Regions from separate parts of the Homo sapiens genome. Here region 1 is linked to region 2. The links come from fine-mapping of genetic effects on gene expression. Tissue or cell type: uterus. Region 2 holds a variant in brackets; the other region holds the start of a gene. All regions are shown on one strand. Distances are from middle to middle.

The links. PIP is the estimated chance that this variant, and not a neighbour inherited with it, causes the effect.
Region 1: it holds the start of ZNF473, and the variant in region 2 is fine-mapped to the expression of ZNF473 in uterus (GTEx, PIP 0.97).

What each region holds. Positions count from the first base shown.
Region 1 is chr19:50,021,661-50,029,764 of GRCh38, reverse strand. It overlaps ZNF473 (zinc finger protein 473), which reads right to left and starts at 3,760. Exons shown (of 5, transcript NM_015428.4): 1 at 3,643-3,760. VRK3 (VRK serine/threonine kinase 3) reads left to right here and starts at 4,393. Exons shown (of 15, transcript NM_016440.4): 1 at 4,393-4,498. RefSeq lists enhancers at 3,607-3,656, 4,067-4,116, 4,457-4,536, 4,586-5,087.
Region 2 is chr19:50,082,840-50,090,943 of GRCh38, reverse strand. No RefSeq gene overlaps it. Among named protein-coding and RNA genes, the nearest start is that of SNAR-A4, 5.7 kb to the left of the region's middle. The variant A/G (reference allele first, on the strand shown) is at 4,204.

The sequences.
Region 1 (8,104 bases), 61 kb after region 2:
TTTTCTATTCTAGTCTCTTTTATTCTACTTCATTAAAAAATCATAGTCACTGCCCACCTAGTTATTTTCATGACCCATAATACGCAAAACTGTACCACAGACATTTTTACCCATTTGTATCCACTGCGTGGACCAAGTAGCACATATCTGCGGAGTGCTGAAAGCATTTCATATCACAAAGCAGCACGGATCACTTAACAATGACACAGGTCCACAAATTCTTCAAACTCCAAGGCCAGATGTGCTTTGAAATTCAACTTTTATTTTCAAAAGGTGATATGGCATATACATGGCATATTTCATTAAAATCCCAGTGCAGGGCTGGCCGCAGTGGCTCATGCCTGTAATCCCAGCACTTTGGGAGGCCAAGGCAGGCGGATCACGAGGTCAGGAGATCCAGACCATCCTGGCTAACGCGGTGAAACCCCGTCTCTACTAAAAATACAATAACAAAATTAGCCAGGCATGGTGGTGGGCGCCTGTAGTCCCAGTTACTCAGGAGGCTGAGGCGAGAGAATGGTGTGAACCCGGGAGGTGGAGCTTGCAGTGAGCCGAGATGGCGCCATGCACTCCAGCCTGGGCGACAGAGCGAGACTCCGTCTCAAAAACAAAAACAAAAACAAAACAAAACAAAGTCCCAGCGCAGTGTGGATCAGGCTGCATTTCATAATTGAACACTTTACCCTAGAGAAAAGTATCATCGTTCATTCTAGGTAGAATAATTTAAAGTTATATTTAAAAAATACCCTGTAGTAGTTCAGGTAAGGCACGGACACTAAATTTATGAAAAAAAATTTGTTGTTCTGAGTTGTCCAGATTTTTGAGACTACAAATATGGGAATATGGTAGACCTACAATAAATGCTAATTCTACTGAACAATGAGTTTTTCTACATGTCAGAGGTTAAGCCTCAACCTACGAGTATAACTCAGTTGACAGATATTTGGCCCATAATGTTTGTTGGCAGACAGAATGTTTTGAAAGAAAATTCAAGCATGGCTCACTAGTCTCAAACTTGAAAATTGGGAAATTTCACCTAAAAATTATGTTTCCAACTTCTGAAACATCCTAGGATTTGGCAACATTGGGTCTACATCCCACGAAGTTAGTTCACTGGTGCCCATTTAAAGCTCCCCCACCAGTGCTAGGCAAGTGGGGGATGCTTATAATCCCAGCACTTTGGGAGGCTGAAAGGTGTTCGAGACCAGCCTGGGCAACGTAACAAGACCTTGTTTCTAAAAAAAAAAAATTAAAAATGAGCAAGTTGTGGTGGCACGTGCCTGTAGTCCCAACTACTTGGGAGACTGAGGTAGGAGGATCGCTTGGGAGGCTGAGGTAGGAGGATCACTTGAGCCCAGGAGTTCAAGGCTGCAGTGAGCTATGATTGTGTCACTGTACTCCAGCCTGAATGACAGAGAAAGATCCTGCCTCCAAAAAAAAATTAAATTTGTTTTTTTTTTTTTTTTTGAGACGGAGTCTCGTTCTGTCGCCCAGGCTGGAGTGCAGTGGCGCGATCTCAGCTCGCTGCAAGCTCTGCCTCCCGGGCTCATGCCATTCTCCTGCCTCAGCCTCCTGAGTAGCTGGGACTACAAGCGCCTGCCACCACGCCCGGAGAATTTTTTGTATTTTTAGTAGAGACGGAGTTTCACCGTGTTAGCCAGGATGGTCTCGATCTCCTGACCTCGTGATCCACCCACCTCGGCCTTCCAAAGTGCTGGGATTACAGGCATGAGCCACCACACCCGGCCAAAAAAATTAAATTTAAGTTTAAAAAGCGGCTGGGTGCAGTGGCTCATGCCTGCCATCCCAGCACTTTGGGAGGCCAAGGCAGGCGGATCACCTGAAGTTTGGAGTCCAAGACCAGCCTGATCAACATGGTGAAACCCCCGTATCTACCAAAAATACAGAAATTAGCCAGGCATGGTGGTGCACGCCTGTAATTCCAGCTGCTTGGGAGGCTGAGGCAGGAGAATCGCTTCAACCGGGGAGGTGGAGGTTCCAGTGAGACCGAACTCCAGCCTGGGTGACAGAGCGAGACTCTGTCATCAAAAAAAAAACACAATTCTCCCCTTCAGATGAGGCAAGTGCTCCCCAAGGCCCCGCAGCCTCACCTGGACCAGTTCTCTTCTTTCCTGTATGTCATCTGCCTGGCCCTCACAGACAGCTGAGCTTGAGATCCCTGTCTGCAGTTACCAAATCACATTCTGCCCACATCTCATATACTCTCAGCTCTGGGAGGAAAGAAACGAGGGCCCAGAGGTGGAGCCCAAGGTCATCCAGCCCAGAGTGACTTAAGCCAAACAATTATCAGGCTGAGAGACCTTGGGCCCAAGAGTCTTGCCCTTCCTTCCAGACCATTTACCTTCTCTAAGCCTTAGTTTCCACATGTACCAAATGGAACAAATACAACAGATCTATGGTCCTTTAAATGCTCCAAAAACCAGAACTTGATTTATAAACTGACCGCAAAACTTCACCTGGATTGCCACAGGCCATGTAGGGTCTTAATGTTCTCATAAGTGTGAATATTCACACCTTGCCCCACAGAAACATTTTATGACCAAAAACTGGCCCAGATTCCTCGGGGTGTGGGGGGGTGCTGCCTAATTATAAAATATGCACCCTATTAGCTTTCTAAAATCTGAAAAATTCTGATTCCCGAGATTGCCTTGGTGCCAAGGGGACCTGCACTTATGTCTCAGTGCTGCTGCGGGGATCAGAAGAGGAAATGCAACTCCAGCAGGGCGCCTGGCACACAGAAAGCACTCAAATACTGTAAATGTTAAGTACTTCAACTTCCCGAAGAACTCCCATCCATCGTCCAGCAAGATTCTGCCTAAATTTGCCAACTTCAGGTAACTCATTCCCCTCCTTCCCCAACCAAAACCAAAATAAAACAGAACCACTCCTCTCAGGGCCATCAGGGAGGCCTGGAAACCCCTTTAGCAGTTTTCTTTTCTTTTCTTTTCTTTCTCAGCTCACTGCAACCTCTGCCTCCTGGGTTCAAGCAATCCTCCCACCTCGGCCTCCCAATTAGCTAGGAATACAGGGGCGCACCACCACGCCCGGCTAATTTTTCTATTTTTTTCTTCTTTTGTGGAGACAGGGCTTCACCATCTGGCCCAGGCTAGCCTCGAAATCCTGGGCTCAAGCGATCCGCCCACCTCAGCCTCCCAAGGTGGTTTTCTTCCTTTCTTTTTTTTTTTTTTTTTTTAAGATGTAGTCTCGCTCTGTCACCCAGGCTGGAGTGCAATGGCGCGATCTCGGCTCACTGCAACCTCCAGCTCCTGGGTTCAAGCGATTCTCCTGCCTCAGCCTCCTGAGTAGCTGGGATTACAGGCCCCCGCCACCACGCTCAACTAATTTTTGTATTTTTAGTAGAGACTGGGGGTTCGAGGAACTCCTGGCTGTAAGTGATCCCCCCCGCCAAGGCTTCCCAAAGTGCTGGGATTACAGGCGTGATCTACCGTGCCCAGACCTTGAGCGGTTTTCATAACAGACTGTGAAAGACGGTTCACACCTTCACCCTGACAACCGCCGCCCAAGGCGACGCACCCTTTGCCGAAGTCGCCCCCACTTGCATTCCGTCACCTCTCAGGAAGGACCGAGCCCGCAAGTCCCTCAGCCCCAGCGTCTCCGTACCTCGGGATTGTAGTCGGCCGCGTCAACAGACGCAACCCCAGCCTCAAGGGAGCGGGAGATTCAACTCCCCGCACACGCGCCTCCTCGCAGCGACTTCCTGTGCGCGAGAAGCTTCTCTGAGCGGCTGCACCCAGGATCCTCCGCGGCAGCGCCAGGACTCTATTTCCCAGAGGGCTGTGCGGGCGACTTCTTTCGCCTTCCCATCTCCTCCTGCTTCTTCAGCCTTAGCACTGTGGGAGTAGAGTAGAAAGAGAATCAGGACCAGGCGGCATCAGTTTGTAGTCCAGATTTTTACCTTGTTAAAGAATCATCTAATTAGCTTCTTGCCTTTACTAGAAGTCAGGGAGTGTTAACCTTTTCCGAAGAGCAAGCGGTAGGTTGCCATGGAAACGCGTTGTGACGGGTTTCTGAGAAAACAAGCGGAAGTAAGGGGCGGAGTTGAGGCAGAAGTTTAGGTAATGTGACCTCTGATTGGTGGAGAGGTACCTCACGGTGCATTCCGATTGGTCTGACACTGACACATGCGCAGTAGAACCAGAAGGCGTTCCAAAGCGGCTAGAACGGAGGGGAGGGGGATGAGCAATGAGGGAATAATCCCCATTCCGTCTGGAATCAGAGGGCGGGCCTGCCGCGGAGGCATCTGGGAAACGGAGTTCCCAGGCAGGCGAAGCCCAGGGGCCGTCAGGAAGTCAGCGGCGCCTGCGCGGGCGCCTCAGATTCAGGATGCGCGCGCAGCGCTCTCCGCCCAGCGGAAGTTTTCGCTGGGCAACTGAGAAGGTGAGTCCGGGTAACTGCGGAGGATCCGAGGGTCAGGCTGCAGAAGCCCAGAATCCCACCCCAGTCCCCAAGTACAGAGGTGAGGGGAAGCGAGGCGAACGAGGGGACGTCCCCCGACCCCCTAGCCGCAGCTCGGCCGGGGCGTCCGTGACGTCAGCACGACCGTTTGTGGGAGGCGGAGGCCCCTGCTGTCGGGGTTCGGAATGAGAGCGGCTCCGGGTCGCGGGGTTCACTGGCCTCCTCTTGAGCTTCCCAAGCCACCTTGGGCTCCGTGTTGGGCATGGCTAAGGCGGAGATGGGCGGAACTTGTGGGAAGTTCGACAGCTCCTCCGCTGTGAAACTTGGCGTCTAAGTCATCCCGTGGTTTCTATGGAGGTGCGGCCGAAGGGAGGCTCTGTCGTCGCCTAGGCAATCGCCCCACCTGCGCTGAGGTGGGGTCTGACTTTTAGCCTTTTTGCTGTGCTGTTTCCTGAACTTTCTAGGAGGAACACTATACAGTAGTTGACGCATAGCAGCTGTTCCCTAAACATTTGTTGAATAAGTCAAATAAATTAAGATAAAGACTGGCCTGAGGGTTGGAGTCTTAGGGTTTCAAGTCCTGACCTGGCCATTGCATAGGTGACTTCAGCACATCCAATTTTATTGAGCGTTTACTATATGGAAGGCTCCGTGCAACCGATATTACACTACTATAACCTGGGTTTGAACGGTGCTAGTCTAATAGGCACTGTTCAAGCCCAGGTTATTATAGCAGTGTCTAAAACAAAAATCCTGCCCAGCTAATTCACATTCTCAGGGTGGTTGGGGATGCCAGACACTAAAAAAGAAATGTTAAAGAATATTTACAGGTCTGCAGTCCCTTATCTATAACTTTAAAATCCAAAACGTTCTGAAAACTGAAAGGTCTTTTTCTCTGTTTTGCAACTTACTTGGCAGGCCAACCTCACCTGGCTTTGAACTTGTTTGCTGGCAATACCCACTCTGAACTGATGTGTGACTATTTAGAATTTTTAAAGATTTTGTTGTGCAAATCATATACTTATGGAGAGTTGCCCCTGGATCTCGCCGGTGTTGTAATATGTAATAGGTTCTAAAATCCAAAAAATTTGGCTGGGCACGGTGGCTCCCGCCTGTAGTCCCAGCACTTTAGGAGACCGAGGTGGGCGGATCACCTGGGTTCAGGAGTTCGAGACCAGCCTGGCCAACATGGTGAAACCCCATCTCTACTAAAAATAAAAAAATTAGCCGGGCATGGTGGCATGCGCCTGTAATCCCAGCTACTCGGGAGGTTGAGGCAGGGAGAATCGCTTGAACCCAGGAAGCGGAGGTTGCAAGTGAGCTGAGGTCGTGCCACTGCTCTCCAACCTGGGTGACATAGCAAAACTCTGTCCATCATGCAATACATGGCAGAAGCAAGATCCAAACCCAGGCAGATTATTTCCCAAGTTTATCCTCTTAACCCCTGTACTGATCTGCTTCTAAGTGGCACGTCTTTTTTAGGGACCATCCAGCTAGATAATTCCGGCCCTGAGCTTTGAGTCTCTGGCTGGATGTCTAGATTTGCCTGAGAGATGAATGTGTACTGACACAGCTGGGGACCCCCCCCACCCACCTTCTTGGCACATTTTCTTTTGCAAAGGAGACAATGATTTATTCACTCAGCAGACGTAGACCCAGCATTTGCTCTGTGCCAGGCCTGTTTGAGGCTCTGGGCACACTGTGGCAAACAAGGCAGGGAAAAGTCCCCGCCATCATGAAGCTTACATTCTAGTAAGTCAGAGTATGTCAGGTAGTGACAAGCACTGTGAAGAAAAATAAAGCAAGGTAAGGAGGATAAAACATGCTATTAGTAAAATGGTGTCCAGGGCCAGGCACGGTGGCTCGAGCCTGTAATCCCAGGACTTTGGGAGGCTGAGGGGGATCACCTGAGGTCAGGAGTTTAAGACCAGCCTGGCCAACATGGTGAAACCCCATCTCTACTAAAAATATAAAATTAGCCAGGCGTGGTGACACGCATCTGTAATCCCAACTACATGGGAGGCTGAGGCAGGAGAATCACTTGAACTCGGGAGGCAGAGTTTGCAGTAAGCCGAGATCGTGCCATTGCACTCCAGCCTGGGCGAAAAGAGCCAAACTCCATCTCAAAAAAAAGAAAAGAAAAAACACAGTAAAATCGTGTCCAAGAAGGTCTCTGAGAAGGTGACATTTGAACAGAGAGCTAAAGAATGTGATGAGGAAGTTAACTGTGTGCACTCTTAGGGGGACAGCGTTCCAGGCAGATGGGAGAGCAGGTGCAAAGGTCTTGGGGAAGAAACGTTCTTGTCACGATTGGGGAAAAGCACCGAAGCTGTTGTGGCTGACTCAGCGTGAGCAAGGGGAGAGGTGGGAGAGGTCAGAGAGGGAACAGGGAAGTGGCAGATCATACAGGGGGCTCCTGGGCCATGGTAGGAATTTCAGCATTTATTCTGTCTAAAATGAAATCCACCATACGGTTTTGAGTAGAGGAGGGACAGGGTCTGACTTACATTTTATTTATTTATTTGTTTATTTATGAGACTGAGTCTTGCTCTGTTGCCCAGGCTGGAGTGCAGCGGTGCAATCTTGGCTCATTGCAACCTCTGCCTCCCAGGTTCAAGCGACTCTTGCGCCTCAGCCTCCCAAGTAGCTGGGATTACGGGTGCCCACCACCACGCCCGGCTGATTTTTTTTTTTGTACTTTTTTAGTAGAGACGGGGTTTCACCATGTTGTCCAGGCTGGTCTGGAACTCCTAACCTCACGTGATCCGCCCACCTCGGCCTCCCAAAGTGCTGGGATCACAGGCGTGAGCCACCGTGTCCGACCCACCATATGGGCCAGGGCAGGGACACAGACAGGGTCTGACTTAGATTTTAAGTGGATCCGTCAAGCTACTGGGTTGAAAATAGATTGTAGGGACAAGCGTAGAAGCCGAAAGTCTAGTTAGGAGGCTGCTGCAGTAGCACAAGGGAGAGATGGTGGCCTAGACCAGGCTGGTGACGGTGTCAGAACCGGGGGTGGCACATGGTTAAAAGACTCTCTTGCCGTGGTTCCACACCCAACATCAGCTTCCAGATTTAAATCTACAAGAATGTTCTGACCTGCTGCCCCAAGAACCCAGTCCGGTTTTGCGTTTTCGTTGTATAAATTGGCACCAGGTGAAGAACATGGGCTTTTGGGTTCTGGATTTCAGCTGCGTCCCCACTGTTTTCTAGGTGAGTGGAGTCAGGTCTGGGGGAAGGAGAATTGTCACCCTTTGAGCATCATTTTGTAGGTTTCAAAGATGGGATAATCATCCCTACCTCATAGAGTGGAGGGAAAGATTAAACAAAATCATGTGTCTGGCTCGCCGCTTAAGAGGTTTGTGGCCCTGGGCAAGTCATTTGCTCTCTGAGCCTCTGCTTCTCATCTCCCCAAAGGGGAAATCATTCTTACCTTGAAAAGGGTGATTGGGAAGGTTCTGTAGATAATACCTGCCGAGAACTTAGCACAGTGGTCTGCACATACTGAACTGTCATGAAATGAGAACCGTCTTAAGTGAGTGACTTGACCTCTCTGTGCAGCAGGGACTCCCTGTCCCGGTTACTATGTCTAGAGAACAAATCGTCCCACAATTCACTGGTGTAGAACCACCATTTCTTGTGCCCATGGATCCTATGGGCCAGGAAT
Region 2 (8,104 bases):
TCCCTCCAGGGGGCGCCATGGAACGCAGGGCCCTCTCTGTCCCTGGGGACTGGGTGATGTCAGGGGTGAGCCTCTCGTGATTGGCTACATCGCTCCCCAGAAGGTCAAATGGAAAAATTGAGAGCACTTTTCCACCAGCTTCGGTGGCTCCGTCAGGTTGTCCTGGCGCACAAGCTGGCGATGCTATGTGTTTGAAGCTAACCTGGACAAAATTGAAAAAAATTGTTTTTTCATTGTTCCGTCATAAAGGGAGGTCTCGACAGGAAGAAATTGCGTTTCCAATAGAATTGTTTTTAAATTACTGCAATATATCTTTTGAGATGGAGTCTTGCTCTGTTGCCTAGGGTGGAGTGCAGTCTTATGATCTCGACCTCTGCCTTCTGGGTTGAAGAGAGTCTCCTCTCTCACCCTGAGGTTACAGGCGCACACTACCACACTTGGCTAATTTTTGTATTTTTGGCTTCTTTTTGAGATGGAGTCTTGCTCCGTCGCTGAGGCTCAAGGGCAGTGGTGCGATCTTGGCTGACTGCAACCTCTGCCTTCCGGGTTCAAGTGATTCATCTGCCTCAGCCTCCCGAGTAGCTGGGACTACAGGCACGTGCCACCACGCCTAGCTAATTCTTTGTATTTTTAGTAGAGAAAGGGTTTCACTGTGTTAGGATGGTCTCTATCTCCTGACCTTGTGATCTGCCCGCCTCAGCCTCCCAAAGTGGTGGGATTACAGGTGTGAGCCACCGCTACCTGGCCTTTTTTTAAATTTAATTATTTATTTATTTATTTATTTTTATTTTGAGGTGGAGTCTTACTCTGTTGCCCAGGCTGGAGTGCAGTGGCGCAATTTTGGCTCACTGCAACCCCCGCCTCCCAGGTTCAAGCAATTCCTTTGCCTCAGCGACCCAGTAGCTGGGATTACAGGCGCGTGCCACCATGTCTGGCAATTTTGTGTATTTTTAATAGAGACGAGGTTTCCCCATTTTGGCCAGGCTGGTCTTCAACTCCTGACCTCAGGTGATCCGCCCGCCTCCGCTTTCCAGACTGCTGGGCTTACAGGCGTGAACCACTGCGCCAGCCTCTTTATCCCTTCTATACTGCATACCCCAAGTTGCAAACTGTTATTAGAGTGAATACCTAGGGGCAACTTGGATCCTTATAATGGACACCTGATATTTTTGCCTGAGTGACATCTGTTATCTCTGATTTTCTTCTTCATTAATAATTTTTTTTGGAGCAGTCTTAGGTTTACAGGAAAAAATCGAATGAAAAGTACCGAGAGTTTCTACATCCCCTTTCATCCCTTCATTGCCCCTCATCTTCCCTGTTAACATCTTGTGTTACTGTGCTACGTTTGTTACAATTAATAAGCCAATATTGATACATTATTATTAGCTGAAATCTGCAGTTTACATTAAGGTCCACTCCTTGTGTGATACCTTGTACATTCTATTTTTTTTTTTAATAAAGCATTTTTTTGGTGTTGTTTTTTTTTTTTTTTTTTTGAGATGGAGTCTTCCTGTGTCACCCAGGCTGGAGTGCAGTGGCGTGATCTCAGCTCACCGCAAGCTCCACCTCCTGGGTTCACACCATTCTCCTGCCTCAGCCTCCTGAGTAGCTGGGACTACAGGTGCCCGCAATCACGCCCGGCTAATTGTTTGTATTTTTAGTAGAGACGGGGTTTCACCGTGTTATCCAAGATGGTCTCGATCTCCTGACCTCATGATCTGCCCACCTTGGCCTCCCAAAGTGCTGGAATTACAGGCATGAGCCACCGCGCCAGGCCTTTTTTTTTTTTTTTTTTTTTTTTTTTCAGTTTTAAAATCACAGCAAAATTGAGAGGAAAGTCCATAGTTTACATTCAGTTTCTCTCTTAGTGTTTTATTGTCTATGGGTTTGAACAAATTTATAATGACATGTGTCCACCATTATAGTATTATGCAGAGTAGTTTCACTGTCCTAAAACTCCTCTGGGCTCTGCTGATTCATCCTTCCCTCCTCCCAAACCCCTAAAAACCAATGATTTTTTTTAACTGTCTCTATAGTGTTTCCTTTTCCAGAATGTGGTATAGTTGGAATCATACCATATGTAGCGATTTCGTATTGGCTTCTTTCACTTAACAATATGCATTTTAGGTTCCTCCATATCTTTTCATGGCTTATTATAACTGAGTAATATTCCATTGTATGCATGTACTGCAGTTTGTTCATCTACTGAAGGACATCTTGGTTGCTTCCAAGTTTTGGCAATTATGTACAGAGCCGCTATGAATATTTGTCTTCAGGTTTTTGTGGGGATATAAGTTTTGAGCTCATTTGAGTAAATACCAAGGAACATGAGTGCTGCAATATATGGTAAGAGTGTTTAGTTTTGTAAGGAAGTGCCAAATTGTCTTCTAAAGTGGCTGCACCATTTTGCATTACTGCCAGAGATGAATAAGAGTTCCTGACGTTCCTCATCCTCATCAGCACTTGGTGTTATTCATGTTTTGGATTTTCACCATTCTAATAGGTGGTTGTCGTATGTCATCATTGCTTTAATTTGCAATTTCCTAATGACATTTGATGTTGAGCCCCCTTTTTTTTTGGAGACAGAGTCTTGCTCTGTCGCCGAGGCTGAAGTGCAATGGCATGATCTCGGCTCACTGCAACATCTGCCTCCCAGGTTCAAGTGATTCTCCTGTCTCAGCCTCCCAAGTAGCTGGGATTACAGGCATGCACCACCACGCCTGGCTAATTTTGTATTTTTAGTAGACATGGGGTTTCTCCATGTTGATCAGGCTGGTCTCGAATGCCTGACCTCAGGTGATCTGCCCACCTTGGCCTCCCAAAGTGCTGGGATTACAGGTGTGAGCCACCACGCCCGGCCCAAGTACCTTTTATTTATTTGTTTGTTTGTTTATTTATTTATTTTAAGAAACAGGGTCTCTGTTGCCCAGGCTGGAGTACAGCAGTGCAATCATAGCTCACTGCCGCCTCCAACTCTTAGATCCTCCTTCTCGGCCTCCCCAGTAGCTGGGACTACAGTTGTGTGCTGTCACACCTGGCTATTTTTTTATTTCTATTTTTATTATTTTATTTATTTATTTATTTAGAAACAGGGTCTCGCTCTGTCATCCAGGCTGGAATGCAGTGGCACGATCTCTGCTGACTGCAACCTCTGCCTCCTAGACTCAAGTGATCCTCCGACCTCACCCTTCCAAGTAGCTGAGACCACAGGTGTGCACCACCACATCTGGCTAATTTTTTGTATTTTTCGTAGAGATGGGGTTTCACCACGTTGCCTGGGCTGGTCTTGACCTCCTGAGCTCAAGGGAATTACCAGCTGTGGCCTCCCAAAGTGCTGGGATTGCAGGTGTGAGCCACAACATCTGACCTTTTTCTTTTTATTTTTTATAGAGATGGCGTCTCAATGTGTTGCCTAGGTTGGTCTGAAACTCTTGGCCTCAAATGATCCTCCTGCCCCAGCCTCCCAAAGTGTTGGGATTACAGGCAGGAGCCACCCCACCACACCTTTTTATTTACTTATTTGCCATCTGCATATCTTCTTTGTTGAAGTGTCTGTTCAGATCTGTTGCCTATTTTTAAATTGGGTTGTTTGTTTTCTTTTTTCTTTTTTTTTTTAATTGATCATTCTTGGGTGTTTCTCGCAGAGGGGGATTTGGCAGGGTCATAGGACAATAGTGGAGGGAAGGTCAGCAGATAAACAAGTGCACAAAGGTCTCTGGTTTTCTTAGGCAGAGGACCCTGCGGCCTTCCGCAGTGTTTGTGTCCCTGGGTACTTGAGATTAGGGAGTGGTGATGACTCTTAACGAGCATGCTGCCTTCAAGCATCTGTTTAACAAAGCACATCTTGCACTGCCCTTAATCCATTTAACCCTGAGTGGACACAGCACATGTTTCAGGGAGCACAGGGTTGGGGGTAAGGTCACAGATCAACAGGATCCCAAGGCAGAAGAATTTTTCTTAGTACAGAACAAAATGAAAAGTCTCCCATGTCTACTTCTTTCTACACAGACACGGCAACCATCCGATTTCTCAATCTTTTCCCCACTTTTCCCCCCTTTCTATTCCACAAAACCGCCATTGTCATCATGGCCTGTTCTCAATGAGCTGTTGGGTACAACTCCCAGACGGGGTGGTGGCCGGGCAGAGGGGCTCCTCACTTCCCAGTAGGGGCGGCCGGGCAGAGGGGCTCCTCACTTCCCAGTA[A/G]GGGCGGTCGGGCAGAGGTGCCCCTCACCTCCCAGACGGGGCGGCTGGCCGGGAGGGGGGCTGACCCCCCCACCTCCCTCCCGGACGGGGCTGCTGGCCTGGCGGGGGCTGACCCCCACCTCCCTCCCGGATGGGGTGGCTGCCGGGCGGAGACTCTCCTCACTTCCCAGACGGGGTGGCTACCGGGCGGAGGGGCTCCTCACTTCTCAGACGGGGCGGTTGCCAGGCGGAGGGTCTCCTCACTTCTCAGACGGGGCGGCCGGGCAGAGACGCTCCTCACCTCCCAGACGGGGTCGCGGCCGGGTAGAGGCGCTCCTCACATACCAGACGGGGCGGCGGGGCAGAGGCGCTCCCCACATCTCAGACGGTGGGCGGCCAGGCAGAGACGCTCCTCACTTCCTAGATGGGATGGCGGCCGGGAAGAGGTGCTCCTCACTTCCTAGATGGGATGGCAGCCGGGAAGAGGCGCTCCTCACTTTCCAGACTGGGCAGCCAGGCAGAGGGGCTCCTCACGTCCCAGACGATGGGCGGCCAGGCAGAGATGCTCCTCACTTCCCCGACGGGGTGGTGGCCGGGCAGAGGCTGCAATCTTGGCACTTTGGGAAGCCAAGGCAGGCGGCTGGGAGATGGAGGTTGTAGCGAGCCGAGATCACGCCACTGCACTCCAGCCTGGGCGCCATTGAGCACTGAGTGAACCAGACTCCGTCTGCAATCCCGGCACCTCGGGAGGCCGAGGCTGGCGGATCACTCGCGGTTAGGAGCTGGAGACCGGCCTGGCCAACACAGCGAAATCCCGTCTCCACCAAAAAAATACGAAAACCAGTCAGGCGTGGCGGCGTGTGCCTGCAATGGCAGGCACTTGGCAGGCTGAGGCAGGAGAATCAGGCAGGGAGGTTGCGTGAGCCGAGATGGCAGCAGTACAGTCCAGCTTCGGCTCGGCATCAGAGGGAGACCGTGGAAAGAGAGGGAGAGGGAGACTGTGGAAAGAGAGGGAGAGGGAGACCGTGGGGAGATGGGAGAGGGAGAGGGAGAGGGAGAGGGAGATGGAGAGGGAGCGGGTTGTTTGTTTTCTTATTGTTAAGTTTTAGTTCTTTGTATACCAGCTTTCTTTTCTCTTTTTCTTTTTCTTTCTTTCTTTTCTTTTTTTTCAGACAAGGTCTTGCTCTGTTGCCCAGGCTGGAGTGCAATGGCGCAATCTTAGCTCACTGCCACCTCCGCCTCCCAGGTTCAAGTGATTCTCTTGCTTCAGCCTCCCGAGTAGCTGGGATTACAGGCACCCACCACCATGCCAGGCTAATTTTTGTATTTTTAGTAGAGACAGGGTTTTGCCACGTTGGCCAGGCTGCTCTCAAACTCCTGACCTCAGGTGATCCGCCCACCTCAGCCTCTCAAAATGCTGGGATTACAGATGTGAGCCACCACACCTGGCCTGGATACCAGCTTTTTGTCTGATAGGTGTTTTGAAAAGATTTTCTCACAATCTATAGCTTCTCTTTTTATTCTCTTAAACATCTGATTTTCCTATCACTCCTCTCCATGCAAAATATACATTTTTTGACTGGATCTTGCCAGGGATCTCAGAGTGAGAACAAGAGTCAGACCTGGCCAACCTGAGTACTTCATGACCTTGGTTATGATGTGCAGTAGTTTGGATGTATGTCCCATCCAATTTTTTTTTTTTTTTTTTGAGACAGAGTTTTGCTTTGTCACCCAGGCTGGAGTGCAGTTGCACAATCTTGGCTCAGTGCAACCTCCACCTCCTGGGTTCAAGTGACCCTTCTGCCTCCGCCTCCTGAGTAGCTGGGATTATAGGCACATGCCACGCCCGGCTAATTTTTGTATTTTTAGGAGAGACGGGGTTTCCCCGTGTTGGCCAGGCTGCCTTCTAAATTTCGTTCTTGAAATTGGATCCCCAATGTTGGAGATGGGGTCCTAATGAGAGGTGTTTGGGTCACAGGGGTGGACCCCTCACAAATAGATTAATGCCCTCCCTGGGAGTGTGGGTGAGTGAGTTCTTCCTCCATTAGTTCCCATTAGAGTTGGTTGTTAAAGAGAGGCTGACACTTGCCTCTCTTGCTTCCTCTATTGTCACATGATCCCTGCTTTCTTTCTCCTTCCACCAAGAGTGGAAGTAGCTCTAGACTTTCTCTGTATGCCCAATCTTCCAGCCAGCAGAATCATAAGCCAAATACACCTTTTTCTCTTTATAAATTACCCAGCCTCGTGGATCACTTTAGGTCAGGAGTTCGAGACCAGCCTGGCTAACATGGTGAAACCCTGTCTCTACTAAAAATACAAAAAATTAGCCAGGTGTGGTGGCGGGCACCTGTCATACCAGCTACACTGGAGGCAGGAGAATCACTTGTACCTGGGAGGCGGACATTGTAGTGAGCCAAGATTGCGCCACTGCACTCCAGCCTAGGTGACAGAGCAAGATCCTGTCTCAAAAAAAAAATAATAAAATAAAATAAAAATTACCCAGCGTCAGGTTTTCCTTTATAGCAAGACAACATGGACTAAGACACATGGTTACTATAGAAATGGACATGTGACCCAAGTTGGGCCAATGAGAGCTAACCTTGAGACTTTGGTATCACCATTCAGGAAGGCAGTACCCCTTTTCTGCTAGGTTGTTAAAATGATAAGCTAGGTTGTTAAAATGATAGTATGGAAGCTTCGAGCTGCTGTGGGCCCTGTTTGTCACCGTGAGGGAAGAGATTCTGCCTGAGAGGGAAGTCAAGATACAGAAAAGTAAAGCCCAGATGGGAAATGAGCGGTATTGCTAAAGATTCATTTTAGTGCCTGGATCCAGTTATGCCTGAAGCTAGTTATATAGCTCGGTTCTATAAGTCAACAAATTCCCTTTGTCAAAAACAAAAAAAGCCAGAGTACTTTCCAGAGAGCAAGGCTTATTATAATAATAATTAAAGCAGCATACTCTTGCAAGGAAAAACAAATAGACCAAAAGAACAAGACGGAAAAATCAGGAAAAGTTCACACATATACGGTAACTTGGTTTATGACAAAAGCAACATTTCAGTGCAGTGAGAAGCAAAAGATGATCTTTTTGGATAAATAGGGCTGAGCCAGTTGATAACCATATGACCTCTACCTCACACCATACACAAAAATTGATTCCAGATGTGTTGTAGATCTAAATGTTAAAGCTTAAACAATAAAACTTCTAGAAGAAAATATCATAGAGTATCTTCAGAACCTTCAGGGTAAGAAAATATTTCTTTTATTTACTTGTTTGTGTTAATAGAGATAGGGTCTCGCTATGTTGCCCAGGCTGGTCTCGAACTCCTAGGCTCATATGATCCTCCCTCCTCAGCCTCCCAAAGTGCTGAGATTACAGGCATGAGCCAGTGTGCCTGGCCAGAAAATATTTCTTAAACCAGAAACAAAGGAGCCTTAACTATAAAGGAAAATGTTGATAAATTGGACTATATTAAAATAGAAACTGATCCTCATCAAAAAATACCATTAAGAGAATGAAAAGACAAGCCAGAGAGTGGGAGAAGAATATGTATTCTAACAAAAGACTCATAAGAAAAATAAAGAAATAACTCCTACTAACCTGTTTTTTAAAAAAGGCAGAAAAACCAGTCGAAAAATGGACGAATGGCGTGAATTGACATTTCACAAAGTAGCATGTTCATATGCCCAATAAATATTTGAAACAGTGTTAAATTTCTTTCTTATTTTTTTTTTGAGACGGAGTCTCGCTCTGTCTCCCAGGCTGGAGTGCAGTGGCGTGATCTTGGCTCACTGCAAGCTCCGCCTTCTGGGTTCACGCCATTCTCCTGCCTCAGCCTCCTGAGTAGCTGGGACTACAGGCACCCGCCACTGCGCCCAGCTAATTTTTTGTATTTTTAGTAGAGACGGGGTTTCACCGTGG